2 linked regions of the Homo sapiens genome follow. The protein of the gene in region 1 binds, or shares a complex with, the protein of each later gene. Links are inferred from orthologs where the notes say so. Each region holds a gene or a part of one and is shown on either strand. Other genes may lie near its edges. The genes, in order: MYO3B and ESPN.

The links.
Region 2: the proteins of MYO3B (region 1) and ESPN are in contact, whole or in part, in a crystal structure (PDB 5ET1), measured with the Mus musculus proteins. The link is inferred for Homo sapiens from one-to-one orthologs. Residues at the interface, in XP_017174528.1 of Mus musculus: Arg1223, Arg1224, Gln1226, Gln1227, Pro1228, Lys1229, Met1230, Leu1231, Ser1232, Ser1233, Asp1236, Thr1237, Met1238, Tyr1239, Tyr1240, Asn1241, Gln1242, Leu1243; in NP_997570.1 of Mus musculus: Leu35, Ala37, His41, Arg45, Ala67, Asn69, Ala71, His75, Asp76, Ala79, Thr80, Asp101, Ser103, Leu110, Arg113, Phe114, Thr135, Thr137, Ala139, His143, Tyr144, Ala147, Thr169, Asn171, Tyr177, Leu178, Gln181, Ala203, Asp205, Met207.

What each region holds. Positions count from the first base shown.
Region 1 is NC_000002.12:170,170,965-170,187,087, forward strand, and holds the start of MYO3B (myosin-IIIb), read left to right. Parts: upstream 1-7,182; 5' UTR 7,183-7,323; coding exon 7,324-7,325; intron 7,326-9,165; exon of another isoform or gene 9,166-9,188; coding exon of another isoform or gene 9,189-9,217; intron 9,218-16,123.
Region 2 is NC_000001.11:6,436,492-6,452,394, forward strand, and holds part of ESPN (espin), read left to right. Parts: intron 1-202; exon of another isoform or gene 203-293; intron 294-3,762; coding exon 3,763-3,949; intron 3,950-4,134; coding exon 4,135-4,317; intron 4,318-4,442; coding exon 4,443-4,574; intron 4,575-7,989; coding exon 7,990-8,191; intron 8,192-9,172; coding exon 9,173-9,444; intron 9,445-9,813; coding exon of another isoform or gene 9,814-9,933; exon of another isoform or gene 9,934-10,557; intron 10,558-11,536; exon of another isoform or gene 11,537-11,626; intron 11,627-11,978; exon of another isoform or gene 11,979-12,070; intron 12,071-12,149; coding exon 12,150-12,600; intron 12,601-13,952; coding exon of another isoform or gene 13,953-13,979; intron 13,980-14,800; exon of another isoform or gene 14,801-14,839; coding exon of another isoform or gene 14,840-14,879; intron 14,880-15,111; coding exon 15,112-15,257; intron 15,258-15,341; coding exon 15,342-15,605; intron 15,606-15,903. UniProt on the Homo sapiens protein: Multifunctional actin-bundling protein. Plays a major role in regulating the organization, dimension, dynamics and signaling capacities of the actin filament-rich microvilli in the mechanosensory and chemosensory cells.

The sequences.
Region 1 (16,123 bases):
TTAGGAAAATTAAGAAGGCTAATTAATTGGTTTCCTGAGCCAGCATAGCATAGCGTCTCTGAAGCTGCAATGCAGATTGATGGGAGAGTTTCCTTGGGGACTGCATGTGCCTGGAACCTGGATGTTTGACATCTAAGTAAGAAAGAGAAAGGTCTTGGTTGTCTTTTACCTAGGAGAACCAGTGATTGAAAACCATTCGTTCATTATAAGAAATATTCTTAATATAGTCAATAGTTTTTATATATTTTGATCATTCTCTAGTCTAGGTTACATCTTTCCCCAAAAGTTATTCATAAGCCTTAAAAATATTTAAATCCTTTTGTCTAGCAAGTCTATACCCAGGACTTTAACTTAAAACCATTACGTATGTATATATGAATGCTAAGATGTTGATTGCAGTAGCTCATAAATAAGGAAAAATTGGAAACAACAAAATGCTTATGGGGCATCAGTTAACTAATTTGGTGTGCCCGTGTAAGGGAAAGAGGAATGGTCAGTAATACCTCTTGCAGACTAGCAGTTCTCATATGTCTGTACAAGCCCCAGCCCACCAAGAAATCTTAATGTGAGGGTGGGTGGAGGAGGATTGTAGCTTCGGAAGCAAGGTATAATTTTTAAAATGCCTCCTTGGTGATTCTGATATCCTGAGAGTGGAGATATCTCCTTTTAAGAATCAAGATTATAGTTAAATGATGTTAAAACCTACTAAAAAATGATGTAATATTTTTAAAAATACCAAATATCAAACAATAGGTAGTCAACACTGGTTAAAAAAAAATGCACACCCACCCATAGACACTCTTGCACCTACCCACATGCATTTTTTTTTTAAGTCTGAAGGAAAGACAACAAAATGTTGAAAGTGATTAGTTTTTGGGTAGGATTAGGGGTGATTTTATTTGATTTGTATCCTGTATTTTCCAACATCTCACCTACAAACATGTACTACTTTATAATCACAGAAAAAGACACAACACATTCTTGAATTTAAAAAGAATGTAAAAATTAAAATAGTAGCCAATATTTTCTGAAGAGTGTTAATTTTGACAGAAAAAAAAATTCCTGAATTGTTTATTATACTTGTATGGTCTCTAAGTTATCCATAGTTTGCCAAGCCTGTTGGCTTACGGTAGAACCAAACCCAGACATTACTTCCCCCTCATGGCAGCTACCCAAATTTCAGGACTAGTGTCTAAGAATGTGAAAACAAACATCTGAGTTCTCTTCCAAATCAACTTTACACTCTGACTGAATTTTTTTTTTTTTTTTTTTGAGACAGGGTCTCCCTGTCATCCAGGCTGGAGTGCAGTGGTGAGATCATAGCTCACTACAGCCTTCTGGGTTCAAGAGATTCTCCCGCTTTAGCCTCCTGAGTATCTGGGACTACAAGCATATGCCACCACATGAGCTAATTTTTAAATTTGTAGAGATTGGCAGGGTAGTTCTCCCTATGTTGCTTAGGCTGGTCTTGAACTCCTGACATTAAGCAATCCTCCTCTCTTGGCCTCCCAAGGTACTGGGATTACAGGCATAAGCCACCATGCCTGGCTTTTGGATTGAATTTCTGGAGAGTCAAATAGTTGTCTAAACATAGCCAGGGCCTTCTGGAACAGTCTCTGGTGACACATGCGTAAATGCTATGGGCAGGTGTGTATGTTACCACCTATGTGGAGAGCTGGTTTCTCCTATATTTTTCTCAGCACTTGGACAAGAATTTTCTAGAGGACTGGACTTTTCCATTTGTGGGTAGAAGTAAACGCTGGAGGGTAACGAGCTATAGTAGAAGATGACCAGAACAGGAGTCTGATAATGGGGTTCTAGACCTGGCAAAATGAAGGCAGGAGCGCCAGACCTTCTTGCATTCCAGGATTTCTTTAAGAATTGGATGAGATAACACTTGCAAAAGTGTCATGAAAGCTATAAAATGTTAACCCTGCAAAGAGTGTTATTACTTTTTAATAATAAGCCAGCCTGGATTTTTCATAATCTGAGAGTTAAGAACCCTACTGATTGGACAATACTACTGTGGCCAATTCTTGTGAAGAGGAGCAGCCTCTTTTGCTTTGTGGAGTCATTTTTTTTCTCAGTCATAATCATAGATGGCAGGACCAGGATTTGTGTCCACCTATCACTGGCCTTACCCTGCATGATCCTCCTTGCTCCCTAACCTCTGGCCATGCCTCAGATCTCTTGGTTCCAGGAATATTTGCTTGCCGCGGTGCTATCTCCACTTTGGGCCTTCACACGGTGCTTCCCTCTGCCGAAAACATTCCCCCGTCCCCTGTCCCTTCAGCTCACTTCCTCAGCTGGCTTTCTGAAGCAGTGTTTCTCAAAGGGTGGTCCAGCATCACCTGGGAACTTGTTAGAGATGCATATTCTGTGGCTCTTCTCCACCACCAGGGTCAGAAACTCTGGATGTGGAGTCCAGCAGTCTGTTTTACCAAGCCCTCCAGAAGATTCTGATGAATACAAAAGTTCGAGAACCACCCCCCTAGAGCAATGATTCACAAACTTTTTTGCCTCTTTGGGAAGCTTAAAAACTGCTGGTGCTCAGAGCCATACTCCAGAATTTCCAGGGAGAGGTGGGACCAGGAATCCATATTTGTAAATCTCTTCAGGTGATTCCAATGTGCAACCAAGTTGGAGAATCACCTCAGAGGCCTGATTTCCTTTGTCATGGGCTCCTATAGCACCTTGCACTTCCCTTCTGTAACACTCATGCTCTGAGCCCCATAGGGATAAGGAGGCTACTTTATGTCACCAGGACCTGCCACACCATAGGCACCATGGAATGTTTTTGTTTGTTTTTTGTAGAAACAGTATCTCACTCTGTTGTCCAGGCTGGAGTGCAGTGGCAAGATCATAGCTCACTGCATGCTCGAACTCCTGGACTCAAGCCATCCTTCCACTTCAGCCTCCCAAGTCGCTGGGACTACAGTTGCACACCATCATGCCTGGATAATTTTTTTAATCTTTTAGTTTTGTAGAGATGGGTTCTCACTATATTGCCCAGGCTGGTCTTGAACTCCTGGGCTCAAGCAATCCTCCCACCTTGGCCTCCCAAAGCCACTGGATGTTGACAGAATGAATCACACTGTGCTTTGATTACAGGGTATGTTGGAAGGATTGATTTGAAAATACTAATACCAAAAAGATTTCCACATGACATTTTCCAAAATATGATTAGGAAAGTAGTATGGAAGATCATAGTAGTTTCACCGTATTCAGGATGAAGGAAGATTGAGCTTTATGGAGAGAGAAGTATGGAAGTGCAGGAACAATCCCCAGGGATCTCTGTGTGTACCGTGTGTGTGTGTGTGTGTGTGTGTGTGTGTGTGATAAAGCAGATCACACACAGGTGATCTCTGTGTGTGCCCAGTGTGTGTGTGTGATAAAGCAGGCGAACTCCAGATCCACAAATTTTTAAAATCTGAAACTGGACACATTGTTTGCCCTGTTTTTCAGGGCAGACTTAATACCCAGAGATTCTCCTTTTACCATTAGGATTTATTTGTTTTTTAAGTATTAGCTGATGACTTTGGTTAAGTTCTTATTTGACTTAGAATGTCATTTGGAATTGAGGGATAAAACCCATGAAATGAAAATGTGGATATTAAAATGGAGCAGAAAATGGATTATTTGGTGCTGCTAAAAATTCATCTGTTTAGAGTAAAACTTTTTTTTTTTTTTTTTTTTTGAGACGGAGTCCTGCTCTGTCACCCAGGTTGGAGTGCAGTGGGCACCATCTCAGCTCACTGCAACCTCTACCTTCTGTGTTCAAGCGATTCTCCTGCCTCTGCCTCCTGAGTAGCTGGGCTTACAGGCGCCCGCCACCACGCCCAGCTAATTTTTGTATTTTTAGTAGAGATGGGGTTTCACCATATTGGTCAGGCTGGTCTCCAACTCCTGACCTTAGGCGATTCACTCACCTGGGCCTCCCAAAGTGCTGGGATTACAGGCATGAGCCACCGCGTCTGGCCTGTTTAGAGTATAACTTAGTAGGATGTTCTTTGGAAAAATTATCCAGAAGACACTCAAAAGTTAGGTATTTTCTTTTTTTCCTTCTTTGCAATTTGTCAGCCATCAAGTGTAGTGTCTGGCACTCCATAAATGGATGAAGAAAACTAAGAGGTTTACTTGTGGTAATTCATTTTACAGTGTTATTAAATGCTTTGCTAGTTTGAAATGTTTCTGCTATAATAAATAATTTAAGACTTAAAGTCCTTTCTTTTCAATGTAGTTCCTTCTTAAGGTGTTTTTACTTGAAGGGTGTGCGTGTTTGCCCGTGCACACATGTGGGCATGTATGCTTATGAATGAAAATGATCATGAAATTATTGCTCTTTTAGTTCTTTGGAAAAATAAATCTTATGCATATATTTCTTAGGTATTTTAATTGCCTTTGTTATGTAAAGAAATCCCATTCATTCATCCATCCAGTAGGTCATTTCTTTCAACATTATATAGCCACATGCCAGGCCCTATGTTAGGCATGGGAGATATAATGGTGGACCTGATAGGCATGGTTCCTGTCCTCCTGTTGCTGTGTAGTGGTTTTAGCACTTGCGAAAGTCATCTATGAGATTCTTTTGCTTCCGGGTTCTTACATTTTTATTGTTGAGGTGGGGTCTCACTTTGTCCCCCAGGTGAGAGTGCAGTGGTGTGATCATAGCTCACTGCAGACTTGAACTCCAGGGCCCAAATGATCCTCCCACCTCAGCCTCCCAAGTAGCTGGGACTACAGGCATGTGCCAACATGCCCTGCTAATTTATTTATTTTTTGTAGAGACAGAGTTTTGCTATGGTGCCCAGGCTGGTCACTTCTGCGTTCCTGAGTCATTCCTGACTTGATGTGTGTGCGTATATTTTATTCTTGACATTAATTAGCATTTTTCTGCTACTCTTGGATGAACTTTCTAAACACGCTACCTTCCAACCTTATCAGTACATTCAAACCAAGTGGACATCCCAGAATAAGGTGGTGATTCTATAGCAACACAAATTAAATGTCCATTCCCCAAAATGTCTCATTGGAGAGAACAAATAATACACCACATAATTAATAGATTTAAAATCTTCATGGTACTTTAGCTTCATTAAAGATAGCAGCTCAAGCAAATTTAAAATTAATAGATTCTATCTAGTTCGCCTATTGTTATTTTTGAAGTCTGTTACAGAAGAGAAATTATGCAAATGGCTGTCAGGCTATTGCTGCTGCACTCACACTAGGAATGCATTATAATTTCTTTCTTAGAGGAAACACTTATTTGGAGCAGACCAGGCCCTCGGTTCGTTCGCAAGAGGTTGTCCCTTCCTTCAGATGGTCCATTTTGAGCTAATAAGTACTATCAGGGTTGAGGTGGAGAGGCGGGGCTGTGGGGAAGGAAATTAGGATAAATTACTGGGGCCCAGTGGCTGAAAGGGCCTCGGGCAAATCCCTGGTGAAGACAGTCTAGCCAGTCCTCCTCTGCTGGGGCATCTGGTATTTTTTTTCCCTTGGGCCTGGGCAGGCTGTCGGTCACCTTCCAGACTGTATAGCCTTTAACTCCTTGTTGCAATGGAATCCTGCTGGCCTTCTGATTTGCCTTTTCCTGCAAAAATCTGCCAAGACACTCTTTCTCAAAGAAAATTTCCTATGTTACTCTACTGTTTAAAAGCCTGGTGTGGCACCCTCTCACCTTTGAGGAAAAATTCCAGCCCCCCAGGCTGCCTGAAAGCTCTGCCTTCAACTGACTCTTGTATACAAATTCAACTTCATCTCTTGATTATTTTTATAATTCTTCTACTGGAACCAGGCTGATCTTTTTAACAACCTGTTAATTTTAATAACCTGTTCATTTATTTATTAATTTATTCTGCAAGCAGATGGGATGATAAGTTCAGTCCAACTGTAGGAATCCATGATTCTACTAGCTATAATATGAGCAATTATTATGTGCAAATACTGTAGGAAATATAGGAAGATAGAACACATTATCCCCATTCTTAAGATTCTTATGACAGTAAATGGAAACACAAAGGCCATTATTGACTAGCGGGAGTAAGATCGCTGTCCTTTAAATCACCTTCTTCATATTTGCATTCTCTGTGTGCTGTTTCTTGGCTCTGGGTTTCTCTCCTGCCTCATCTACACTAATCCTTTTCACTTCTTCATTCAAAACTGTACCTAGATTTATCTGCTCCAGGAAGCATTCCCACTCAAGTCTTGGTCCTGGGTTGAACTGACTCCTCCTCAGAATTGATGGATATAGCTTATCCAGTGTTATTGCACAGTCTTCAACTATTTCACATGGGCCTATGTGTCATGTTAGCTGGCCAGAAAAGAAGCTTTCTGGGGACCCTACCCTCCTGTTTCTCACTTCCCCTCTCTCCCTTTTTTTTTTTTTTTTTTTTTTTTGAGATGGAGTCTTACTTTGTTGCCCAGCCTGGAGTGCAGTGGCAGAATCTCTACTCACTGCAACCTCCGTTTCCCAGGTTCAAACAATTCTCCTGCCTCAGCATCCCTGGTAGCTGGGATTACAGGCGCACACCACCATACCCTGCTAATTTTTGTATTTTTAGTAGAGATGGGGTTTCCCCATGTTGGCCAGGCTGGTCTCGAACTCCTGACCTCAGGTGATCCACGAGCCTTGGCCTCCCAAAGTACTGGGATTACAGGCGTGATCCACCATGCCCAGCACCACCCCCCCACCCCCTGCCTCCTCTTAACCTACTGTTCTGTATATAGCCCAGGGCATGCTACTGAATGAATAGTCACTGTTGAATAGTCACTGTTTCATTGCTTGGTAATTCAGATCAGAAACTCATGGTGTTTCCCCTGGGTTTATCTGCAGTTCAGAAAAGTGACCCTGACTACATGCTTTGATTATGCCCTTTGCTCACAAAAAGATGATTAGTTTTGATTGTGCAGCATTTGGAATGAAGGAATTTAATCTGGAATGAAGGAACTTTAAAAGGTTGGGGGAATATCACATTGGAACTGTTAAATGACATGCAAACAGGATCTGTGAGAATGGTTTTGATTCTGCTCTGTGTCCTGGTAGGAGACACTAAATAGATCAGGCTCACTACCAATTAGCATCATCTTAATCTTGCCTAATAGTGAAGCAAAGTCACCAAGGATTTGGTGGATTTATCAGCTCCTCCCACAATAGTCATCTGAGGCTAACACCTCTTGGAACCTAGATCGAAAGTCCTTTGGTAATGATGTGTCATACATTCTAGTCATCAAAGACACCATTTTCTGGGCCTGAAGTGTTCTGCTGGTTTTTGGAGGAATGAGAATCCAATCTCTCATAAGCCGGATTCAGAAAATAGGTCATCGATGTGAGTTGCAGTTATTTTCCTTCCAGCTTTCTTCTGTGCTTGCTTTAGATTGTTTTTCTGCAAAGGGCAGATGCAGCTGCCCTGGCTGGTGGGCAGTGGAGGGGGATGACAGCCACTCTGGCTTTGGGCCTCTGTCTGACATCACCCAGATTCCTGGGTCCTCTCAGTTAGCATTTGCCTTTTGTCTGGGTGGTTAAATTTCTCTTGAAGGAGTAGGATAAACACCCTCTTGAGTATTGCTTTTTACACAGACACACACCACACACACACACACACACACACACACATACACACAGCATAGTTCATAGTCACTTGATTTGCCACCTGCAGTTTATAATAGAATGGACCTGTGGGATTATAAACCACTTTATTTCTGCACAGAATTTCTCAGCTTGAGGCCAAATTGAAGGGCATTAGTCATCAGTAATTTGCAGATGTTTTTAATGTTTTTCACCCAAGAGAGGTTTCAGGCAGCTAAAGCTAAGATAAATTTCCTCATGCTTTGGTGGGGAAATGAAAAATCTGATCATTTAGTTAATCATTTGTAAGAGCTGTGGGTATGTATTGTTCCTTAGTGACTGCAATATCATGACAGATTTGTTAATTTGGTAACATGACAATGTAAACAATAGTAGATAAATTCCATTATGCCATGATTCTTTTCTTCCTCTCAGTAATTTTGTATATTCAAGGTTTAAAATCCATAGAACATTAGAGATGGAACTTAGAGATCAACCTAGAGATCATTGGATTCCTCTACCAAGCTCTGTCAAATGCCAGTCCTGAGTGTCTCCCCTGGAGCATCAGGATAAATAGCTAATGCATGGGGGGCTTAATAGGTGCAGCCAACCCACCATAGCACATGTTTATCTGTGTAACAAACCTGCACGTCCTGCACATGTAACCTGGAACTTAAAATAAAATAAAATTTAAAGAAAGGAAAAGAGTACATAATCAGTGGAACCATAAAGGTCAGTTCTAGTGGGAAAATTAGGAAAGGCCTCCTAGAAGAGAAGACATTTGAGCTATACTTGAACAGGCCCTATCTAGCAGCATCCAGATAGGTGGTTTGTGAAGAAGCCAGTTCCTACTCTTACGTCTTTACCATGGTTATGGTTTGAATGTCCCCTCCAAAGATCATGTTGAAATTTAATTGCCATTGTGAGAAGAAATGGGACCTTTAAGAGGTGACTAGGTCATGAGGGCTCTGCCCTTATGAATGGATTAATGCTGTTATTGTGGGAGACGGCTCCTAGTAAAAGGATAGGTTCAGTCTCCTTTTTCTCTCTCTTGAGCTCTCACTCTCTTGCCCTGTCTCACTATGTGAGACCTTCCACCATGTTATGATGCAGCAAGAAGGCCCTCACCAGATGTGGCCCCTTGATCTTGGACTTCCCAGCCTCCAGAACCATGAGCCAAATAAACTTCTATTGTTTATAAATGATGCAGTCTGTGGTATTCTGTTACAGCAGCAGAAAATGGACTAACACAACTATTATGCACTTGCTTATGTATTGGTTTGGAATTATTCTCTAATTTACTCACGCTTGTATGGTATGTGTTTCCTTATTCTGTGTATCTCTGGGTGTTATATTTAATATTTGTACAGATTTCCTCTGACATTTCACAGTTCAGGTTTCCGATTTCTTCTTTCTAAAATCTATTCTCTAGATTTGAAAGCATTCTATGATTTGTGATTCATATATACCATACTATAACATCTAGAAAAAATATTCTGAATAGCATACTGAGCAATGGAAATCTTCATCATGAATTTTCTAATGAGTATAAAATGTTGCTGGGCAAGTTTCTATTTAAATCATGCTCGCTAGGCTTGACTAACTGCAGACATTCACAGGGTGCATGCTGCAGAGTGCTTTACTTTCAACAAGGTAAGGCTGTACCTCCGTTAGGGACTAATTCAGGGTATTCAACAAGGGATCAGACTAGACCAATTTGGGGTTGTTAAGGAACTAAAACTAGCTCACGAGAAACTCAAATCAGCTCATGAAAAGAGGGGCTGCTTGGAAGAATGCAGTAGGAAATTTCATGGGTTACAAGGACAGACAGCAAAGCTTAGCAGGCCTCAGAGGGCCAAGATGTAGAATTCACAGTGAACCCACTCACTAATCCTCTTTGTCTCACTCTCTCAAGCATGGTCCTTTCAGTTTCTTATTTCTCTGTTTTCTTTTTCTTCTCAGGATGAGCCTCTGTTTCATATGGTTTCTGCTATCCTCTGACTTCAGCACACATTTGGGTCATAATAGTCTCCTCTGTAGAGATCTCTTATATGTTTTTTTAAAAAATATTTATTTTAAAAAGTAGAATAACATATGCACTAGCAAAAAACATGACTAAAAATGTGTAATAATTTTAAAAAGCATATAAATTTCTCTCTTTTCCAAACTCTCTGATTTTTACCACCTCTCCCTAAAGTTTAAGAGTTTCCTGTGTAGCCTTCTGGAAAAATGTATATAAGGATATACACATACATAGAGACATACACACAAATATACACATAAAATGACTAGAAATGCAAATATTCTTTGTATTTACACAAAAATTGTCCTCTCTATACACTATTCAACACTTTTAAAACAAATCTTAATTGTATATTTGGCATTCTTTCCATATTAATTGGCAGAAAATTTACCTTTTTTCTTTTTGGTGGTTACCTGTGGCTACATTGTATTTAATTTTATGTAACTATTATGATTTATTAGATAATCTCTCCATGATGATGGGCCTCTAGGTTGTATCTGGTTTTCTACTGAAAATAATACTATAGTGAACAATCTTGTATGTCTATCTACTTCAAGTTTAATAGAGTTTTAGCTCTTACATCTGTTTAATGATTAAAGTTAATTTTTATATGTGGTGTAAGGATAAAGATTCTTTTTTTCTTTTTGCATATTGCTCTACAATTGTTTTAGCACTGTTGAAAAGTTTTCCTTTCTAGTATGTAGAAATATAATTGAATTTAAAATATTGACCTTGTTTGTATCCTGTAATTCTGATAAACTCACTAATTAGTTCTAGTAATGTTTTTATAAATTCCATCAGTTTTTTAAATAGATAATCATGTAATCTTCAAATTAAGCCCATTTTACTTCTTCCCTTCTAATCTGGATTTTTAAATTTTCTTTTTCTTGACTTATTATTCTGGCTTCACCACAGTATTCAATATAAATGATGAGAGCAGACATCCTTGGCTTCTGATCTTAAGGTGAAAGCATTCGGTTTTTCACCATTAAGTGTGGTGTTAACTTCAGGTTTTTCCTAGATTCCTGTATCAGATGAAGAAGTTCCTTTCACTTTCTAGTCTGTTGAGAGATTTTTGTTGTTGTTTTTAAATTTTGAATAAATGTTGAATTTTTTGTGAATGCTTTTTCTGCATCGATCGAGATGATGGTTTTTCTTTTATGTTCTGTTAATATAAATCTAAGTGTGCTTTTTTTGATTATATATGTAAAGTAAATGCCTACCAGTAGAATTACAGAGACAAAGGGAATGGGCATTTGGTAGATTTTGACTAATAATTCCTCACAAAGATTGTTTACGCTTTCGCTCATGTTGTCTCAGAGTGCTTATTTCTCTTAACACTATTATCAAACTTCTAAAAATCTTGACAGTGTGATAGGAGACAAATGGTATCTCATTAGTTTGATTTGCCGTTTAAAATTTACTAGTGAGATTTAGCATCTTTTATACATTTAAATTTTTTGAGTCTTTTTCTTTTTTATTGTATATACTCTTGATAGAAAATTAGCTCCTGATACAAACCTTCTTTTCTATTTATTTTTTGGAAAAATGTTAGTACTTACAACAATTCTTTTGGTTGTAGAGACCTTTTTACTTGTATGCAATTATGTTTATCAATTTTTTTCTTAGGGCTTGTGAGTTTTCTATTCTACTTGAAAATATTTCTTGCCTACACCAAGACTATAATGTATTTAGCTATATTTTTTTAAAAAATTTTGAGCCACCATACTCTATTTTGGAGAAAGGAATGAGGTAGCAATCTGGCTTAACTTTTTTTCTGAACAGCCAGCAAGTTAAGCCAGCATAATTTATTGAACAGTATTATTTAGTCCATCTTTTGCCTATTGATTTGTAATGTGATTTTTATCATAAACCCTATTTCTTTGTGTATTTGAGTCTACTTTTGGTTTCTAGTCTAACGATCTGACTACTTATTTCTACCCCTGTGGCATAATGTTTTAATTACTCTAGCAGTATAACATGTTTTAGTGTCTGGTCAAATTATGTTCACTAATTATTCTTTTTTAAAATTTTCATGTTATGTGTTTTTCTTTTTCTGTTTCTTTTTTTTTTTTTTTGAGACTGAGTTTCACTCCATTGCCCAAGGTGGAGTGCAGTGGCGTGATCTCAGCTGTCTGCAACCTACGCCTCCCAGGTTTATGTTATTCTCCTGCCTCAGCCTCCTGAGTAGCTGGGATTACAGGCACCTGCACCACACCCGGCTAAGTTTTCTGTTTTTAGTAGAGACGAGGTTTCACCATGTTGGCCTGGCTGGTCAAACTCCTGACCTCAAGTGATCTGTCTGCCTTGGCCTCCCAAAGTGCTGGGATTACAGGTGTGAGCCACTGTGACCAGCCCTCATGTGTTTAATTTTCTAATGAAGTTTAATATCATTTTGTCAAATTCTTAAAAAAAAACAAAGCGGCTGGGCGCTGTGGCTCATGCCTGTAATCTAGGACTTTGGGAGGCCAAGGCGGGTGGATTGCCTGAGCTCAGGAGTTCAAGACCAGCCTGGGCAACACTGTGAAACCCCGTCTCTACTAAAATACAAAAAAATTAGCTGGGCGTGGTGGCATGCACCTGTAATCCCAGTTACTTGGGAGGCTCAGGCAAGAAAATTGCTTGAACCTGGGAGGCAGAGGTTGCAGTGAGCTGAGATCACACCATTGCACTCCAGCCTGGGCCACAGAGCAAGACTCTGTCTCAAAAAAAAACAATTATTTACTTTCAGACTAAATTTAGGAAGAATTGACATCTTCACAGTAAGGTTTTCTATCCAAGCATAAGGTATATGGTTTTGCATTTTTTTGGTCTCTTTTCATTTAATCCATTGATTTTAAGATTTTACTTTTATACATTCTGCTCTGTTCTCGTTAGGTTTAGCTTTGGGCATTTTACTCTCTTTAATTCCTATTAAAATGCTATTTTCTTTCTGGCTGATTACTTTTAACATATAGAAAAATATATTTTGAAATTGCTTGATTTCTAGATGCTAATTTTATACTCAGCTCCTCAATGAATCAACTTAATTTTTTTCATTGTTAAACTTTGATTTTCCAGGAATAAATCATTCCACTATTTATTTTATATTCACCATCTTCCCAGTGTTTATTTCTATGTTTTTTTGTCTAATCACAGTGGCTAATACTTCAAAAACAATGCAAAATTTTATAGTGTTTGTGAGAGATACTTGTCTTTTTTCTTGATTTTTATTAGCAATGGTTGTAGAAATCCATTATTAACTAAGATGTTGACTTTTGGTTTGAGAGATATGTTTCTGTGCTGTTTAAATGCTAGAAAGGAATTAACCCATTTGAATTTTTTAATGTTCTAAAAATTAGATATTAAAACTTACCAGATTCATTTTGGATTTCCATTTTTAATGGTGTTTCATACTTTGATATATTAATGGGAAAATCATAGTAATATATTCCCTAATGTTGCATTATCTTTGCTAAATTCTAATAGCTGATTTTTTTTCTGTGGTTTTATGTTTGTTTATTTTTAATTTTTAGTTTTTGTGGGTACATAATAGATGTATATATTTCTGGGGTACATGAGATTTTGATACAGGCATATAATGCATAAGAATCACATCAGGTTAAATGGGGTATCCATCACCTCAAGTATTTATCATTTCTTTGTATTACAATCTAATTATACTTTTAGTTATTTTTAAATTTACAATAAATTAGTGTTGATTGTAGTCATCCCTTTGTGCTATCAAATACTAGATCATATTCATTCTATTTTTTTGTACCCATTAACCATCCCTACTCCCCATCACCACTACCCTTCCCAGCCTCTGGTAACTATCCTTCTACTCTGTCTCCATGAGTTCAATTGTTTTAATATTTAGCTTTCACAAGTAAGTGAGAACATGCAAAGTTTGTCTTTTTGTGCCTGGCTTATTTCACCTAACATAATTACCTCCAGTTTCATCCATGTTGTTGCAAATGACAGGATCTCATTCTTTTTATGGCTGAATAATATTCCATTGTATATATAAACCTGATTTTATTTTTCCATTTATCTGCTGATGAACACTTAGGTTGCTTGCAAATCTTGGCTATTGTGAATAGTGCTACAATAAACATGGGAGTGCAGATAGTTCTTCAATATACTGATAACATTTCCTTTGGGGTGTACCTAGCAGTGGGATTGCTGAATCATATGGTAGTTTTATTTTTAGTTTTTTGAAGAACCTCCATACTGTTCTCCATAGTGATTGTGTTAATTTATATTCCCACCAACAGTGTACAAGAGTCTACTTTTCTCCACATTCTCACCAGCCATTTGTTATTGCTTAGTTTTTTTGGTTAAAAGCCATTTTAACTGGGGTGAGATGATATCTGATTGTAATTTTGATTTACATTTCTCTGATTATTGATTTTGAGCACCTTTTCATAAACCTATTTGCCATTTTTGAGAAATATCTGTTTAGGTCATTTGTTCATTTTAAAATCAGATTATTAGATTTTTCTTATAGAGTTGTTTGATCTCCTTATATATTCTCATTATTAATAACTTGTCAGATGGATAGTTTGCAAATATTTTCTCTCATTCTGTGGGTTGTCTCCTCACTTTGTTTATTGTTTCCTTTGCTGTTCAGAAGTTTTAAACTTGATGTAATCCCATTTGTCCATGTTTGCTGTGGCTGCCTGTGCCTGTAGGGTATCACTCAAGAAATCATTGCCCAGACCAACGTCCTGGAGAGTTTCTCCATTGTTTTCTTTGAGTAGTTTCATAGTTTGAGGTCTTAGACTTAAGTCTTTAATCCATTTAGATTTTATTTCATTCATTTGCATATGGATAACCAATTTTCCCAGCACCATTTATTGAGGAGCCTGTCCTTTCCTCAATGTATGTTTGTGGCAGCTTTGTCAAATAAGAGTTCACTGTGAATGCATTGATTTGTTTCTGTGTTCTCTATTCTGTCCTATTGGTCTATATAACTGTTTTTATGCCAGTGCCATGCTGTTTTGGTTACTATAGCTCTGTAGTATAATTTGAAGTTAGGTAAAGTGATTCTTCTAGTTTTGTTTGCTTTGCTCAGGATAGCTTTGGCTATTCTGGGTCTTTTGTGGCTCCATATACATTTTATGATGTTTTTTCTATTTATGTGAGGAATGACATTGGTATTTTGATAGGGAATGCATTGAATCTGTAGATTGCTTTGGGTAGTATGGACGTTTTAACAATATTGCTTCTTTCAAACTATGAACATAGAATATCTTTCCCTTTTCATGTGTGTCCTGTTCAATTTCTTTCATCAGTGTTTTATAGTTTTCGTTGTAGAGATCTTTCATTTTTTTGGGTTAATTCCTAGGTATTTTATTTGTAGCTATTGCAAATGGGATTACTTTCTTGATTTCTTTTTCCAGTTGTTTGCTATTGGAATATAGAAATGCTACCGATTTTTGTATGTTGATTTTGTATCCTGAAACTTTACTGAATTTATCAGTTCTAGTAGTTTTTTAATAGTGTTTTGGTTTTTCCAAATATAAGATCATACCATCTACAAACAAGGCTAATTTGACTTCTTCCTTTCCAATTTGGATGCCTTTTATTTCTCTCTCTTGTCTGATTGCTTTAGCAAGGACTTCCAGGACTATGCTGAGTAACAGTGGTGAAAGTGGGCATCCTTGTCATATTCCAGATATTAGTGGAAAGGCTTTCAATGTTTCCCCATTCAGTATGTGGGTCTGTCATATGCAACTTTTATTGTATTGGGGTATGTTCCTTCTATACCCAGTTTTTTTTAGGGTTTTTATCATGAAGTGATGTTGAGTTTTATCAAATGCTTTTTCAGCATGAACTGAAATGATCATATGATTTTTGTCCTTCATTCTGTTGATATGATGTATCACATTGATTGATTTGCATATGTTGAACCATACTTGCATTCCTGGGATAAATCCCACTTGGTCAGGATGAATAATCTTTTTAATGTATTGTTGAATTTGGTTTGCTAATATTTTGTTGAAGAGTTTTACTTCTACATTCATCAGGAATATTAGCCTGTAGTTTCCTTTTTTTGATGTGCCTTTGTCAGGTTTTGGTATCAGGCTAATACCGGCCCCATAAAATGAGTTTGAAAGTATTCCCTCCTCCTCTATTTTTCAGAATAGCTTGAGTAGGATTGGCATTAGTTCTTCTTTAAATGTTTAGTAAAATTCAGCAGTGAAGCCATCAGGTTCCAGGATTTTCTTTGTTGGGAGACATTTTTATGGCTTTGATCTCTTTATTTGTTACTGGTCTATTTAGTTTTTGGATTTCTTCATGGTTCAATCTTGGTAGGTTGTATATGTCTAGGAACTTACCCATTTATTCTAGATTTTTCCAATTTATTGATATATAGTTACTCATAGTAGCCACTAATGATCATTTGGATTTCTGTGGTATCAGTTGTAATGTCTCCTTTTCATCTCTGATTATATTTATTTGAGTTGTCTTTTTTTTTTTTTAAGTCTGGCTAAAGGTTTGTCAATTTTATTTATCTTTTCAAAAAACAAAAAGGTTTGTCAATTTTATTT
Region 2 (15,903 bases), on another chromosome or scaffold:
TATTTATTTATTTATTTATTTATTTATTTTAGAGGCAGGATCTTGCTCTGACACCCGGGCTGGAGTACAGTGGTATGATCATAGTTCCCTGCAGCCTCAACTTCCTGGACTCAAGTGATCCTACCTCCTCAGCCTCCTGAGCGGCTGGGACTACAGGTGTGCACCAACACACCTGGCTCATTTTTGTATTGTTTGTAGAGAATGGCGGTCTCTCTATGTTGCCCAGGCTGGTCTCGAACTCCTAGGCTCAGGCAGTCCTCCTGCTTTGGCCTCCGAAGGTGCTTGGATTCCAGGTGTGTGATGAGAATTTCATTTTGGTCCTTATGCTCATCCATATCTTTGTAATACTCCCCAGTGACTGTGAGAGTGCCCATTGTTCTTCTTGTCCTCAGGCCAAGGTGGAGGGGGATGTTGAGCCGGGATCCCCTCCCCCGCAGCCCAACAGCATATCTGCCCCATGTTCTGGGGTATTCCAAGGGGATGTTGAGCCAGGATCCCCTCCCCCTCAGCCCATCAGCATATCTGTCCCATGTTCTGGGGTATTCCAAGCTGGAGGCTCTGACTCCATAATGGGGCGTGTGAGTGCAGATGGTGGAATACTAACGAGAATGGTGATGAGCTCCAGCACTTACTGAGGGCTCATTCCGTGCCAGGAACTTGGGCTGGGAATGCCAGCCAGCGGCCCTGCAGGAGGCTGTGGGTACCACTGCCCCCTGCTGCTCAGATCCTGCTTGGTGCCAGCTTCTCAGACCTTCTCCGGCTGGCTGGGCACCCCTGGGTCATGGATCTCTGCCAAGTGGGGGGTGCTGGGAGAGCAGAGCTCACCGCAGGTCTGGCCCCCCCACCAGCTGTGCAGACCGCCGTGGGCCTCTACAGATAGAACCCAGTGGGCCCCCACCAGCCCCTGATCCCCAAGACCCCGGCACTCACTGTGCCTTGGTTACGGGGTGAATAATTTAGGCCGCTGAGTGTCAGTCATGAAATATTCAACAGCCTGTTCCTGACGCAGCAGCATGTGAGTGTGCGTGGGGGTGACGCTGGCGCTGGGGTGTGGAGGCTGGCAGCCACGAGCCAGCATGTTTCTGAAGATAGATACGTAGCTGTGTCTTCTGTCTCCCTCATCTATGTCGACGGGACCCCCTCTGGATCACCAGGCATGGTGCCTGCTCCCCGCACCATCGTGAAGTGCCGGGCTCAGCATCAGCCCCAGCAAATGGCAGCCCTGTGTCTAGGGAGTGGGGAGGGAGGAGAAATCAGTGAGTGGAGGTCCATGGGGGCTGCAGACAGCCTTGGGGTCTCAGGAGTCAGGGAAGTAGACAGAGAACCAGGGCTTTAGGGACAGGGAGATGCCAGCTGGGAGGGTCTCAGGATGTGTGTGAGAGGGAGGGAGAGGGCACACGTGACAGGGGTCAGAAGAGGGGCTAAGTCGTGTTGGGAACAAGAGGGTGGGTGGGCAAAGGGGGGTAGCCTGGTGCCCATTGATGGGCAGGCAACAAGCGGATGGGCAGTTGGATGGGTGAGCGAGGGATGAATGCGGGGTGGAGCATGTGGTTGATCTAGGGGGTGAAACACTGGGGGAGGTAGATGGGCAGGATGTGAAGTCCTGTGAAGAATTGGCCTCCTAAGCACAAAAGGTGAATTGGAACCCAATAGGTCGCGGCCCCCAACCTGGAGCTTCTCCTGGGTCTGGGGATAGATTGTGGCTCCACCTAGTGTCCTTCGGTGGTAACTGCACCCTGGCTGTTCACCTGGACACACCAGGCCAGCCATAGACCCTCCTGGTGGCTGGTCCTCCCAGGCACAAGGAAGGATCCTAAAGTTCAGCAATGGCTGTGCGCCAGGCACCAGGCCTGTGCTCAGGGCTCTGCAAGCACTTCTCAGGCACTCTGCACAAGGTCAGGATGACAACTGTTGTCCCCATTTCATGGATGGGTTTGGGAAGACAAAGAGACAAGAAGCAAGACTGTGGCACAGCTCAAAGGCCCCCCTCTGGGCTGGGAGAGCAAGGATAAGGGACAGTGACAGCCGAAAGCTAGGCCCTAGGAGAAGCCCCTGAGACACATTCCAGCTCTTCAGTCCCTGCATGCCCATATTGCCGGCCAGGCCCTGCATGCACAGACAGATGGGTGTTCAAATGCCACTTACCAGCTGTGTGACCGAGGAGAGAGCTGAGTCTGTGCCTCTGTTGTGGGACTATGGGTGATGGCACAGAGTCCCAGCCCCACCTGTGAGCCTCCTCAGCTGCAGCTGCACCATTGACTGAATTCTGATTCTGGCAGGTCCCCTGCTAGGTGCCTTACCGGTGTAATCTCAGTTGATGGTCATAGTAATAGTTGATGGCCGGGTGCGGTGGCTCACACCTGTAATCCCAGCACTTTGGGAAGCTGAAACAGGCGGATCACTTGAGCTCAGGAGTCCGAGACTAGCCTGGCCAAGATGGCAAAACTGGGTTTCTACTAAAAATACAAAAATTAGCCAGGCGTGGTGGCACATGCCTGTAGTCCCAGCTGCTTGGGAGGCTGAGGCAGGAGAATGGCTTGAACCCAGGAGGCAGAGGTTGCAGTGAGCTGAGATTGCGCCATTGCATTCCAGCCTGGATGACAGAGCAAGACTCCGTCTCAAAAATAAAAATAAAAAAGAAGAACCTGCTTGCTAGTGCCGTAGCCCAGAGCTAGCACAGCAGAAGCATTCAGTACATAGTGGACATCCTGAGGGCTGCCAGATTAACAAAAACAGCAACAACCAAACCCAGGACGTTTGACTAGCTTTGAATCTCAGATAAACAAGCTGTACTTTAGTATAAGTATGTCCCATGCAATATTTGGGATATAGAATACTAAAGCATTATCCGTTTATCAGAAATTCAGATTGAATTGTGTGAACTGCCTTTTGTCTGGCAACCCTTACCACCCTGCCCTCTGGGAACTCAGTCTTCTGGGGGAGGCAAAGGTCAAAATCAGTTATGGTCAACCAAGCATGACAGGTCATGCTCAAGTGGCCCTGGGCAGTGTGGGGCGGAGGCCAGCAAGGGGGAAATAAATCAGGGTGGCCCTCATGGAGGAGGGATGGGTACTGAGTCTTCAAGAGGGAGGAGAAGGACATTCCAGATGGAGGGGGCACACAATGAAAGGGATAGAGGTCAGACACAGCAGGTGTGGGGATTCATGGTGACAGTGGGTGAGAGGGGAGAAGAGGCCAGCTCACCACATCTTTGTAGACCTCGGTTAAAAAGTGGGACTGAGCCTGGGTGCGGTGGCTCTGTAATCCCAGCACTTTGGGAGGCTGAGATGGGCGGATCACGAGGTCAGGAGTTCGAGACCAGCCTGGTCAACATGGTGAAACCCTGTCCCTACTAAAAATACAAAAAATTAGCGGGGCGTGGTGGCACATGCCTGTAATCCCAGCTACTCAGGAGGCTGAGGCAGAAGAATCGCTTGAACCCGGGAGGCAGAGGTTGCAGTGAGCCAAGATCGAGCCACTGCACTCCAGCCTGGGCGACAGAGCTAGACTTCTTCTCAAAAAAAAAAGTAGGACTGAGGGCAGGGCAGTGCTGGGTGGGACGCCCTCAGGGACCTCTGAGGGAGGGTGGCTCAGGACTCAGTCCAGGGGGAGCCCCCCGGGCAGCAGCGGGCCGGTGACAGGGCCCTTTCCCACCCACTCTCCCTGCCGTCCAGGGCTCCCCGGGACGGGATGGGGGCGGGTAAGAAGGCCTCGGAGGGGGTGAGGCGCTGAAAGCCCACGGTGGGCGCTGTGTCTCCGCAGGGGAGTGAATGCCCAAACCAAGAACGGTGCCACGCCCCTGTACCTGGCGTGCCAGGAGGGCCACCTGGAGGTGACCCAGTACCTGGTGCAGGAATGCGGCGCAGACCCGCACGCGCGCGCCCACGACGGCATGACCCCGCTGCACGCCGCGGCGCAGATGGGCCACAGCCCAGTCATCGTGTGGTTGGTGAGCTCCGGGCCCGGGCGGGGAGCAGGGGAGGCGGGGCGGAGCCGGCAGGGCGGGGAGTGGAGGGAGCGGGGCCATCAGGGGTGGGGCGGGGGGGCGGGGGCGGGCCACGGAGGTACAGGGGGCGGGCCTACAGGGGCCTGGCGCCCAGCCCCCGCCCCCCTCTCCCCGCCCGTCCCGCCCAGGTGAGCTGCACCGACGTGAGCCTGTCCGAGCAGGACAAAGACGGCGCCACCGCCATGCACTTCGCGGCGAGCCGCGGCCACACCAAGGTGCTCAGCTGGCTGCTGCTGCACGGCGGGGAGATCTCGGCTGACCTGTGGGGCGGGACCCCGCTGCACGACGCCGCCGAGAACGGGGAGCTAGAGGTCAGCGCGGGCCCGGGGTGGGGGCGCGCGCCCTCTGCTGGCACCGCGCTTTCAGCACGGCCCTGCCCGGGCGCGGGGGTCCCAGCTCGCGGCCGCGGCCGGGTCCTCACTGCGTGCCCCCGCAGTGCTGCCAGATCCTGGTAGTGAACGGCGCGGAGCTGGACGTCCGCGACCGCGACGGGTACACGGCCGCCGACCTGTCGGACTTCAACGGCCACAGCCACTGCACCCGCTACCTGCGCACGGTGGAGAACCTGGTACGATCCCTGAGCTGCTCCTGTCGCATTCTTTCTTCTCGCCCCTCCACCCCAGTGGTGGGTGTCGTCACCCCTTTTACCAAGGAGGAAGCTGAGGTTCAGGGACGTGAAGCCCGCTACCCCACACGACCTCTCAGCCCAGAACCACTGCCTACTGGGGACTGAGGGAGTAGAGGCACAAAGGTCAACGGAAAGAGGACAGGGAAGACCAGAGTCACCCCAAGGGGTAAGGCTGGAGAAATCACAAGACAGGACCCACTGGGAATAGGCAGGCTCATTCACCTACCCATAGACATTAGCTTGGGTATAACTCACAGCCACCCTCTGCAGAAAAGAGTGTTTAAGTGTCCCGTTCCACATATGGATAAAGTGAGTCTGCGGGGCACCAAGATGGCATCACCAGTAACTGTTAGAGTGGAGAACCTACCTTGATGGCCTGGCCAGGAGGCACCTCTCAGCCCCTGCACCATACATTTGCTGACTTCATGGCTGGGTCATAACTGGAAACCCACGCTACTCTTTTTAAATTATGTTATTATGGTGAGACAGCCATGAAGTGACCCAATGGGACTTGAACTCAGCTGTGGATGTCTCCAAGTGCAGGGCTCTGCACCATCTGGTACAATGCCTGCTATGAGGCAATAGGCAGGGAAGAGAGTGGGCCTCGCAGTCAACCCGAAAAGGATGCGGACCAACTCCATGGGGCAGCCTGGCCATGGAGGGGCTGTGCAATGAGGCCCGGAGGGAAGAAGGCAGATGGTCTGTGCCCTGAGCACCGTCTGTCCATCTGCCCTCCCCCCCCCAGCACAGGGGGATGGTCCTGGCTCTGGGGGCTGCAGAACACAGCAAGGCCCAGAGGCCAGAGGCTGCAGGGGGGCCTGAGGATGAACTTCCCCCCGCGAAAGAGTCTCTGGAAGAGAATGAATGGCCCAGCAGGTAGTGAGCACTCTGTCACTAGGGTATATAAGCTGGGATGGACACTGGGAAGGGCATTTCTGCATCAATGGTGGGTCCCCTTCAGTTAAGAGTGTCTGTGACTCTGTTGAGGGACCGTGGGGGGTGGCACCAGAGCCCAGGGCACCTGAGGGCCTCTCTGGATGCAGCTGCTAGCGGTCATAGGACAGCAAACACTATTCATTGGATTCTGACTTAGGCAGGCACCCTGCCGAGTGCCTTAAAGGTGTAATCTCCGTTACTCTTCACAGTACATTAAAAAAATAGTTGGCCGGGTGCAGTGGCTCATGCCTGTAATCCCAGCACTTTGGGAGGCAAAGGCAGGCAGATCACGAGGTCAGTAGATCGAGACCATCCTGGCCAACATGGTGAAATCCCATCTCTACTAAAAATACAAAAAAAAATTTAGCCAGGTATGGTAGCACACGCCTGTAGTCCCAGCTACTCGGGAGGCTGAGGCAGGAAAATCGCTTGAACCCAGGAGACGGAGGTTGCAGTAAGCCAAGATCGCGCCACTGCACTCCAGCCTGGTGACAGAGCAAGACTCCTTCTAAAAAAAAAAAAAAAAGGCTGGGCACGGTGGCTCACGCCTGTAATCCTAGCACTTTGGGAGGCTGAGGCGGGCAGATCACAAGGTCAAGAGATCGAGACCATTCTGGCCAACATGGTGAAACCCCGTTTCTATTAAAAATATAAAAATTAGCTGGGCATGGTGGTGGGTGCCTGTTGTCCCAGCTACTTGGGAGGCTGAGGCAGGAGAATCGCTTGAACCCGGGAGGCGGAGGTTGCAGTGAGCCGAGATCACGCCACTGCACTCCAGCCTGGGTGACAGAGCAAGACGCTGTCTCAAAAAAAAAAAAAAAAAAAAAGGTTGAGAGGCCATGTGGGGTGGCTCATGCCTGCACTTTGGGAAGCTGAGGCGGCGGGTGGATCACCTGAAGTCAGGGTTCGAGACCAGCCTGGTCAACATGATGAAACCCCATCTCTACTAAAAATACAAAAATTAGCTGAGTGTGGTGGCGGGCGCCTGTAATTCCAACTACTTGGGAGGCTGAGGCAGGAGAATTGCTCGAACCCGGGAGATGGAGGCTGCAGTGAGCCAAGACCACGCCACTGCACTCCAGCCTGGGCGACAAGAATGAAACTCTGTCTAAAAAAAAAAAAAAAAAGTTGACAATATGGCATTTACTGGGTGCCATGTCCTGGAGCTCAGCAGAGCAAGTAGTGCTGTTATCCCCATTTGCAGATAAAGAAAGTTAGGCACAAAAAGCATAGGTGACTCTCCCGAAATAGCTAGTAAGTCAGGGAGGGGAAGTCTGAAGCCACTGTCCCAGACTGCAGAGCTGGGTGGCTCAGGCCAGGTGCAGTACACCTGCTGTGGCCCAGCCTCTTATCTGCTGCCTACAGGGGTCAGGGCTTGGTGCCCTCAGCACCCACTGCTGTTGGCCAGGTAAAGAGCACCTTCGGGTGCTGCCCACGCCACCTCCTATGGCTCCCCTGATTCCTGCGGTAGGCAGCAGGGCCTGGTCCCCTGGAATGGGTGGAGTATGTGTGCCCTGGTTCCCTCACCCAAGCAGGCCCAGCTGCGGCAGGGACAGATCCAAGCCACAGAAGACGCTGGCCCAGAAAAGGCAAACACTCCCACAGAGCCCCTAATTACGGGGCCAATGAGCGCGGCCGCTGAGCCGTTACCTGGTGCCAGGCCTGCCTCTCTCTCCCAGGGGGCCTGTGACACTTCTTAGGCAGGGAGGGGGCATGGGGCAAGGAGGAGCAGGCCTGGGCAGGAGGCAGCGGAGCAAGCGGGCTTGCCGGCAGCAGGGGCAGCATGGCAATGTAAGCAGGGCCCCCACCACAGCCCCGTCTGCACCGGGAGGGGACAGGCCTGTGGTCAGACGCACAGACCGGGCAGGGCGAGGGGATGGCAGGCCTGGCAGCCTGAGTTCTGGCTGCCCATCACTGCAGCTGGCCATCCAGGCCCCACCCTTACCCCGAGGGCCCCATCAGGAGACAGGCCGGGCTGGTGTTGGGAGTCTGCCCCAGGCCCCAGGTCCAGCAAGGAGAGCCGGCTTGCCAGCCAGGTAACTAGGGATGGGCCTGTGCTGTGCGCCTCCCCATGGAGCCTCTGCCGATCCGTGAGGGAGAAGGCCGATCTCCTGGCATTTCTCCCCTTGGGGTGCAGCTCAAGGGCCCCCTCCTTGTCGATCTCTCCACCCTCCTAATCAGGGAGGAGCCAGGGGAGGGAGTTTCCCAGGAACCTGGGTCCTGCTGCCTGGCGGGGCTGGGCTTGAATCTTAACCTGGAGGAACCTGAGAGACCGTCTAGTGATGGGGAAGAGACCCCAGAGAGCGGTGTGGCTTGGCCAAGATCCCACAGCGAAGGCATGACTGAGTAGGACCCTGGCCTGGAGAGCAACGCATCTTGGGGTATGGTTGTCTTCATGGCCTCCCTGCCTCCCCTTCAGAGCGTGGAGCACCGCGTGCTTTCCCGGGATCCATCCGCAGAGCTGGAGGCTAAGCAGCCGGATTCAGGCATGTCCTCACCCAATACCACGGTGTCGGTCCAGCCGCTGAACTTTGACCTCAGCTCGCCTACCAGCACCCTCTCCAACTACGACTCCTGCTCCTCCAGCCACTCCAGCATCAAGGGCCAGCACCCTCCATGTGGTGAGTGTGCCCAGGAGGAAGACGGGGAGGGAGAGCAGACTGAAGCCAGACTGCTGGGCTGTGAGGATTGGCCTTGGGCCGCCCTGCCACAGCCAATATCGGACACTACCCTCATCACTTGCTCTTAAACATGGGGAGGCGACACCCCTTCTGGTGAGAGACAGATGTCACTCATACTTGTGTGTGCTTATCACAAACATACATGTACATCCACATGTACTCTCCCCACCCACAAAGTCCACGTGTGTCGCCCACCATTCATTATTCTTAGCTACTCACATACAAAAGCACACACTTGTACATGTGTACATACAGCATACAGATATGAACACACAGAGCCATGCGAATATCTGCACACACCCACCCTACACACAAGCAAGCACACAGTGCTCTATTTCCATACTACAGATATGCACGCACACACACACACATACACACCATGTCCACAGAGCAATGCACACACATTCATCAGTACAAAGAAGCATGTGCACAAATGCGTACCCCCTCAAACATACACAAATGCACGATCGCCTCGGCAGACTGCAGGCTTGTGTGTACACACACCCTGACCGTGCCCTGAGCATGGGCGTCCGTCCACTTGCAATGCCTGCTTCACGCCGCCAGATGGTGGCCTCCAGACCTGGCAGGGGTGCCCTGCAAAGATTGGATGTGGCCATCCGTACTCCCAAGGAGTAGACCCTCCCCTTCCAGGTGACCCTGCCCTCTAGACACACCAAAGCCTCCAGTGCTTCCCCTCCAAACCGGAGTGCCTGGTCTTCCCCCAGTAAGTGCTGGGCTGGGGCAGGGTAGGGCCAGGGAGGGGAAGCCCAGCACCGCCAGGGGCCACAGCAGGTGTACCAAGTGGTGCCCGGAGCCCACCTTGCCCCTCGGCAAGTTGTTTCCAGGTGGTGGAGAGTCTCAGTCTTGGGGGACAGCCTGTCTGCATGCTCCCAAATCTGGCCCTTCCTTCTGCCTCCCCAGGGCTTTCCAGCGCTAGAGCTGCAGACATACAGAGCTACATGGACATGCTGAACCCGGAGCTGGGCCTGCCTCGGGGCACGATTGGGAAGCCCACACCCCCACCACCCCCACCCAGCTTCCCCCCGCCACCCCCGCCCCCAGGCACCCAACTGCCCCCACCCCCACCTGGCTACCCAGCTCCCAAGCCTCCTGTAGGACCACAGGCAGCTGACATCTACATGCAGACCAAGAACAAACTCCGCCACGTGGAGACAGAGGCCCTCAAGAAGGAGGTAGTGAGCCCTCACCCCCTGCCTGCCTCCCAGCAGGGGGACTGGGCTGATGGGGGCCAGTGAGGCCAAAGGCCTGGCCTCACTAGTGGGCATAGGGTGGGGATCCCTGGGTCCATGGCATGTTCAAGAGTCAAAGCTCCTGGCGAGTCCCACAAGGGGTCAGGGCTGGACACTGGACTGGGAGGAGAGTAAGAGCAGGTCATTGCCCTCCATGGGAGCTGGGGGGTGAAGGACGCAGGTCCAGACAGCTGTGCCTCACCAGGAACTGGGCCTGTGCCACCTCTTGCACAGAGTGGCCGGGTTGTCATGGAGTTGACAGAGAATGCATGGAGACTGCCCCTCCCCAAGCATGCCCCCCCACCCCCACAGCCCCAGGCTCAGTCGGAGAGTGTCACCCAAGGGAGGTGGCTGCCAGGTGGAAGGTGCCAGTGGCATGGCTGTGGAGGTGAGGGCTGGAAGGAGGGTGGGGGGAAGGTGAGCAGGCACTAGCAGGGCTGGGTGGAAGTGAAGCTGTGGCTGGTTCCAGTTTAGGGCTTGAGCTCCTGGGGGAAAGGGCCAGGCCTGAGCTGGGAGCCCTGGAAGGAAGCGAGCCTGTGTGGAGAGGATGAGGCCAGGGTGGGCAGGTGGAGTGTGAGGTGCCTAGGGATGTCTGGGGCCTGCAGGCCCCTGGCTGAGGCTCTGGAGCAGGGGTTGGGGCAGAGGTCTGGTCTGAGCAATTCCGGGTATCCCGGGCAGGGTGCCCTGGGGAACACTGGCGTTCTGGCCATAGGAACAGAGCAAGGATGGTCTAAGAGGTGAGGGGACAGCCTGAGGTCACAGGTGGCCAGATGTGGTGTGGCAGCCCCCTGGGGTCCTGCTGGAGCCTGGGACCTTGCAGTTCTCAAGCCCAAGGCAAAGCCACCCCAGGGCCAATTCATAAAAGGTGACTCGGGTCACAAGGCCACTGGGCAAGGGAGGCATGGGAGGGACACCGAACCTGCAGGCCAGCTCCAGTAGCTGCCCTCTTCATGCCACCTTAGACCAAGCTCCCACAGTGGCTTCCCCTTTCATCTCTGGGAGGCAGAGGGGGCCCTGGAATCGCTGAGTTCCCAACGCAGACTGTTGGCCCCGCCCAAATCCACAGGACAGGTGGCCCAGCCAGTGCCCCGTCTCCACCGTTGAGCCCAAGTGCCAGGTCTGCGTGGTCCCCTCCTGGCTGTGTGAGCCCCCTCCCGGCTGTGTGCGTCCCTCCGGGCTGTGTGCGCCCCTCCCGGCTGTGTGCGCCCCTCCCCACTGTGTGCGCCCCTCCCGGCTATGTGCGTCCATCTCGGCCGTGTGCGTGCTGGGCCGCAGGCGCCAGGGCCGGGGCCCGGACGCTCCACAAAGGGCTCTTTGTGTCGCCGCGGCGCCCCCCGCGCGGGTGCCTGACCGGGGGCGGGAGCAGGGTCGTGGCGTCCGAACCTCCGGGCTGCAGGGGGCGCGGAGCGGGCGGGCTGGCCCAGAAAACAAATCCTGCGGTGTCGCATTTCCTGCAACGTGAGCCAGGTCGGGCGGGGTGAAGGGTCTGAGGCCACCGCAGGGACGCATGGGCTGGAGAGTGGGGCAGAGGACAGCCCCCACCCGGTCACTCAGTCTTTGGCCCGGCCGCCTCACTCTCCCTCACTGAGCTGGGCCTAGTTGGGGGCAGCTGCGATGGGGTGGGAAGCCACGCTGTCACCCGACCCCGCCTTACGGCCCCTGAAATCCGAGGCTTGAGCGCGGGTGTCGGTGTCGCTTTCGTGGATGGCGATGGTTTCCAGATGCAGGAGGGGAAGGGTGGGGACGCGACCCGGAGCCGGGGGCCAAATATGAGAGGCCTCCTCTGCCCACAGTCAGCCCTCTCCCCTCTCGGGCGGGGATGAAGGTGGGGGCTCAGCTCCCAGCTTAGGGAGAGGCGCAGGGGGCGGGGTCACATCTGGCCGGGGACGGGTGCAGAGCCGCGGCCAGGTGTGGCAAAGTAGTTGGCGCCCCCTGTGGCATCCGCGACGGCTGGGGGGGTTCAGCCTGGGATTGGCGGGCCCCGGGTGATGTCAGGCCGTCGGAGCCCATAGGCTGGCTGTGCGCGGGTGGCTGTAACCTGAGAGGAAGTATCAGGTAACGCAGGTGTCGGGTCCTGCCGCCCCCACAGCCAGGTGCACAGCGGGGGCCACCAGCACCGTGGCAGGTAGGAGCAGCCCCCGGACGGGCAACCGGGGTCCGTGGCAAGCCGGAGCCTCCGAGAGCACAGGCTCTGGAGGGGGCTCCCTCCGGCCCCGGACCCCCGAAAGACAGGGCTCCGCGGAGCCCTGGGGACCCGCAGTCCTTCTGACAGCCGAGAGCGGAGTGCGGCCGAGGGCCTAGTGAGGGCTAAGCTGGGAGGTGCCCCTTCGCCAGCTCCCCCTGGCGTCGGGGCTGGGCCACCCCGCCCCTGGGCCCGCCTCTTCTGGCCTCAGTGGGGGCCCCTGTGCCCCTTGGCCGGTGCCCAGAACCCCTCCCTGTAAGGCGGGCGGAGCCTGCCCTTCCACCGAGGCCCCCATGACCCTCGCCCGCTGCCCACTGTGAGAACCAGGGGGTCTAGGAAGTCAGCTGCTGCACCCCTCGACGGCCGCTGGCCGCGAGTCCCCAGGAGGTGAAGAGCTGGGTGGGGAGGCGTGGGGGGCGCCTACCGGGCAGGTGCCCGAGCCCCACCGGTCACTGTCTTCCCGCAGCTGAGCTCCTGTGACGGCCACGACGGGCTGCGGAGGCAGGACTCCAGCCGCAAGCCCCGCGCCTTCAGCAAGCAGCCCAGCACGGGGGACTACTACCGGCAGCTGGGCCGCTGCCCCGGCGAGACGCTGGCCGCACGCCCGGGCATGGCGCACAGCGAGGAGGTGCGTGCCCGCCAGCCCGCGCGCGCCGGCTGCCCGCGCCTCGGCCCTGCCGCCCGCGGCTCACTCGAAGGCCCCTCCGCTCCCCCGCAGGCGGCGCTGCTTCCTGGGAACCATGTTCCTAACGGCTGCGCCGCGGACCCCAAGGCGTCCAGGGAGCTGCCACCGCCGCCCCCACCGCCGCCGCCGCCCCTGCCGGAGGCCGCGAGTTCGCCACCGCCGGCCCCGCCTCTGCCCCTCGAGAGCGCTGGCCCTGGCTGCGGGCAGCGCCGCTCCTCCTCGTCCACCGGCAGTGAGTAGGGGCAGGTTGAGGGGCGTGGGGCGGCGCTAGCCCTGAAAGGGGAGGGAAATCTAGACACCGCCCCCTCCCCAGCTGTCACTGCCCGGGTCCTTCCTCTTCTACATGGTCTTCCGGCCACCCCTACCCCATTGAGTACTTGACCCTAAGAGAGGGCTCTGGGTTGCTTGAGGTCCTGCCAAAGCACGACCGGGCTGCACGGCCTGGGGCAAGTCCCTTCCCCAATCTGGGCCTGCCTCCCACCCCCTAGCTGTGTGGCCTGGGCAAGTCCCCTCCCCTCTCTGGGCCTCCTCCCACCAGCTAGAAAGGGCCTCCCAGCTCTGGCGCTGGTGTTTCCCATGAGCTGGTGCTGGTGTTTCTGATGAGCTGGTACTGGAGGGACACTCGAAGTAGAACCAGCTTCAGAGAGGCCCCGCAGCTAGCCACCCTTCCCCCTGCCCGTCTATCCTGAGCCTCTCTTCCTCTCTCCACGTCTTTCTCTTGTCCTTCCAAGCAGCACAGACCTGAAGTCTTCTTAGATATGCCAGGAACTCTTCCTAGCCAGTTTCTGCCAGGGGCCCTGGGCCAGCCAAGGCGTGGCTATGGGGGCAAAGCTGTGACCCACCGTGTTTCCCCCTCCCTCCCCGGTGACTTCCCTAGGCAACCTTTTTTAAGAGCTAGACTGGTGCAGGATTCCTGGGCTGCTTTTCTGTAGGGTGGGACAGTGTCCCCCTGCCAGGACACCTAGAAGGCCCAGGACAGAGTGCCTAGATGTGGTGCTCCCATCCCAGCCTGGCTGGGGTGTCTTCCTCACCCAGCCACTCAGGGCAGAGATCATGCTTAGTGGCACCCCTCAAAGCTTCATCTCCCTGACTAGAAGTGCAGAGCAGAGCTAGTCCCCCTACGGTTCCTATGGAGCCCCAGCCCCTGCAGACCAGAGCCCATGTAAGCAAGTCCAGCACCTGCCGAACCTCCTTCTTCCCTCCACAGCCTGCAGCAGGGCTGAAGCTAAGGGCAGAGAAAAACATACTCTGGGCTTCCCGAGACACCCTCACCCAGCACAGCCAGGGCTGGGTGCCCTACCCCAACCCAGTGCCAAGGTGGAGGCCCTTGCTAGGGGCTAGAGCCAGTGGTGGCCCTGCCCAGCCCTCAGGGGCACCAGCCAAGCCAGGAACTCGATGGACCACCCTCATGGGGCCCCAGAGCAGCCTGAGCCAGGGTCAGATGGGCAGAAAAGCTCCTCCTCTCTTCTCCACTTCCCCCCCGCCCGCTCTCCCTGGCCCGCTCCCTGTCCCCTGCTGTCCCAGTCTCATCCTGCCCCCCCTCCCTCCTAACTCCGCTGTCACTTCTCTCCTCTTGGTCCCTAGAAGTGAGAGTCCTGAGGCACAGGAAGAGTGAGTAGCTGCGTGCGCGGCTCCTGGCTGAGGCTGAGGCGCGGGGTGGGGGGAAGAGGCAGGAAAAGCAAGGCAGAAGGGGCCCAGACTTGAGGAAAGGGCAGGGGCAGGGGCTGGCAGGCGAGAGAACCTCGAAGAATGGGTGGGGCCTTGCACCTCATACCTACCCTCATACCCACATATGCACCCAAGCATTCTGCACCTGGCTGATGGTTTTGCCTAAATAAATGAGCCAGCCACACCGATTTTCCCTTTCTCCTACTCTTCTCCCCCACCACCCCCACCCGCTGTGACTGCATTCTGGGATCCCCAGCCTGGGAATCCAAGAGCTGTCGGCCCATTTTATTCCTCCCTCCCAGACCTGACCCCTTCATCGGGGCTCAAGAGACCTCTCTCTCCAAATCTCCATTTGCCTCCTCTGGCTAAGCTGGAAAATGCACACTCTGCCCTGGGTGTTTCCATATTATCCGCCTGCCCTTCCTCCTGGGTGCCTCCCGTAGCCTTAGTAAGGGCTCTGCTTTCCTGGGCCCCTAGAGCTGAGCCATGCTTTGCCATAAAGGTGCTCCCGGCTTGCAACCAATGTGTCTGCTTGTGCATCTGTCTGTGGGTGTGGTGGGGAGGGAGGGGACCAGGTGGGTACTGGCACTCTGGGGTCCGGACTTTATGTCCATGGAGGCCCCAATTGACTCAGTTCAAGGGTCACTGAGGCTTTGCTGATGTAGGGAGAGGGCCAGAGGGAGGCTCCACCCCAGCCGGGCTGAGCCAGGGAACCTGGGACAAAGGTCAGGTGGCTGATTCCAGGTAGTGTTTTGGAGCTGGGCAGTCAGTGGCTGGGCGGGGACATATGCCCAAGAGCCACCATGAACTCCCAGGGGCCTCCAGGCAGGGGCCCTCCATCCCGTGAGTAGGGTGGGGAAGATGGTGGGGTTGCCACAGTCAGGGAACCAAGGGCCCGCCTCTGGGGGCCCTGAAACCTGCCTGCAGGACCTGGGATCTGGAGAGCTGCCCGCTGGCCCGGAGGATGGGCACCCATCCAATCTTGGCTTAGGAAAGGGGCTGCAGAGGGGCGGGTGAGGGGTGGCGGGGATGCAGCCCCACCCTGGCCAGTGCCTCATCTCCTGCCTCCGCATAGGCACCAAGTCTTTCAACATGATGTCCCCGACGGGCGACAACTCGGAGCTACTGGCTGAGATTAAGGCAGGCAAGAGCCTGAAGCCGACGCCCCAGAGCAAGGGGCTGACCACAGTGTTCTCAGGCATCGGGCAGCCGGCCTTCCAGGTAGGCGGGCCCAGCAGGAGCCTGCGACCCGGCTTCCCTGGCCCTAGGCCACCGGGCGCTCAGCCCCACCGCTTCTCCCTGCAGCCCGATTCGCCGCTGCCTTCTGTGTCACCTGCACTGTCACCAGTCCGGAGCCCCACACCGCCAGCTGCGGGGTTTCAGCCGCTGCTCAATGGAAGCTTGGTTCCCGTGCCGCCCACTACTCCTGCGCCGGGAGTGCAGCTGGACGTGGAGGCTCTCATCCCCACGCACGATGAGCAGGGCCGGCCCATCCCCGAGTGGAAGCGCCAGGTGATGGTGCGCAAGATGCAGCTGAAGATGCAGGAGGAGGAGGAGCAGAGGCGGAAGGTGGGTGGGGCGGGGTGCCCAGGGAGCCCTGGGGTCTGCATCTGGATGCACAGCCCATCCCCCACGCCACCCCCAACCCCAACCTCGGGACCTCCCATTTTCTTTCTTTTTTTTTTTTCTTTTCTTGAGACAGAGTCTTGCTCTGTCGCCCAGGCTGGAGTGCAGTGGTGCGATCTCGACTCACTGCAACCTTCGCCTCCCAGGTTCAAATGATTCTCCTGCCTCAGCCTCCCAGGTAGCTGGGATTACAGGCGCCTGCCACCACGCCCAGCTAATTTTTTTGTATTTTTATTAGAGA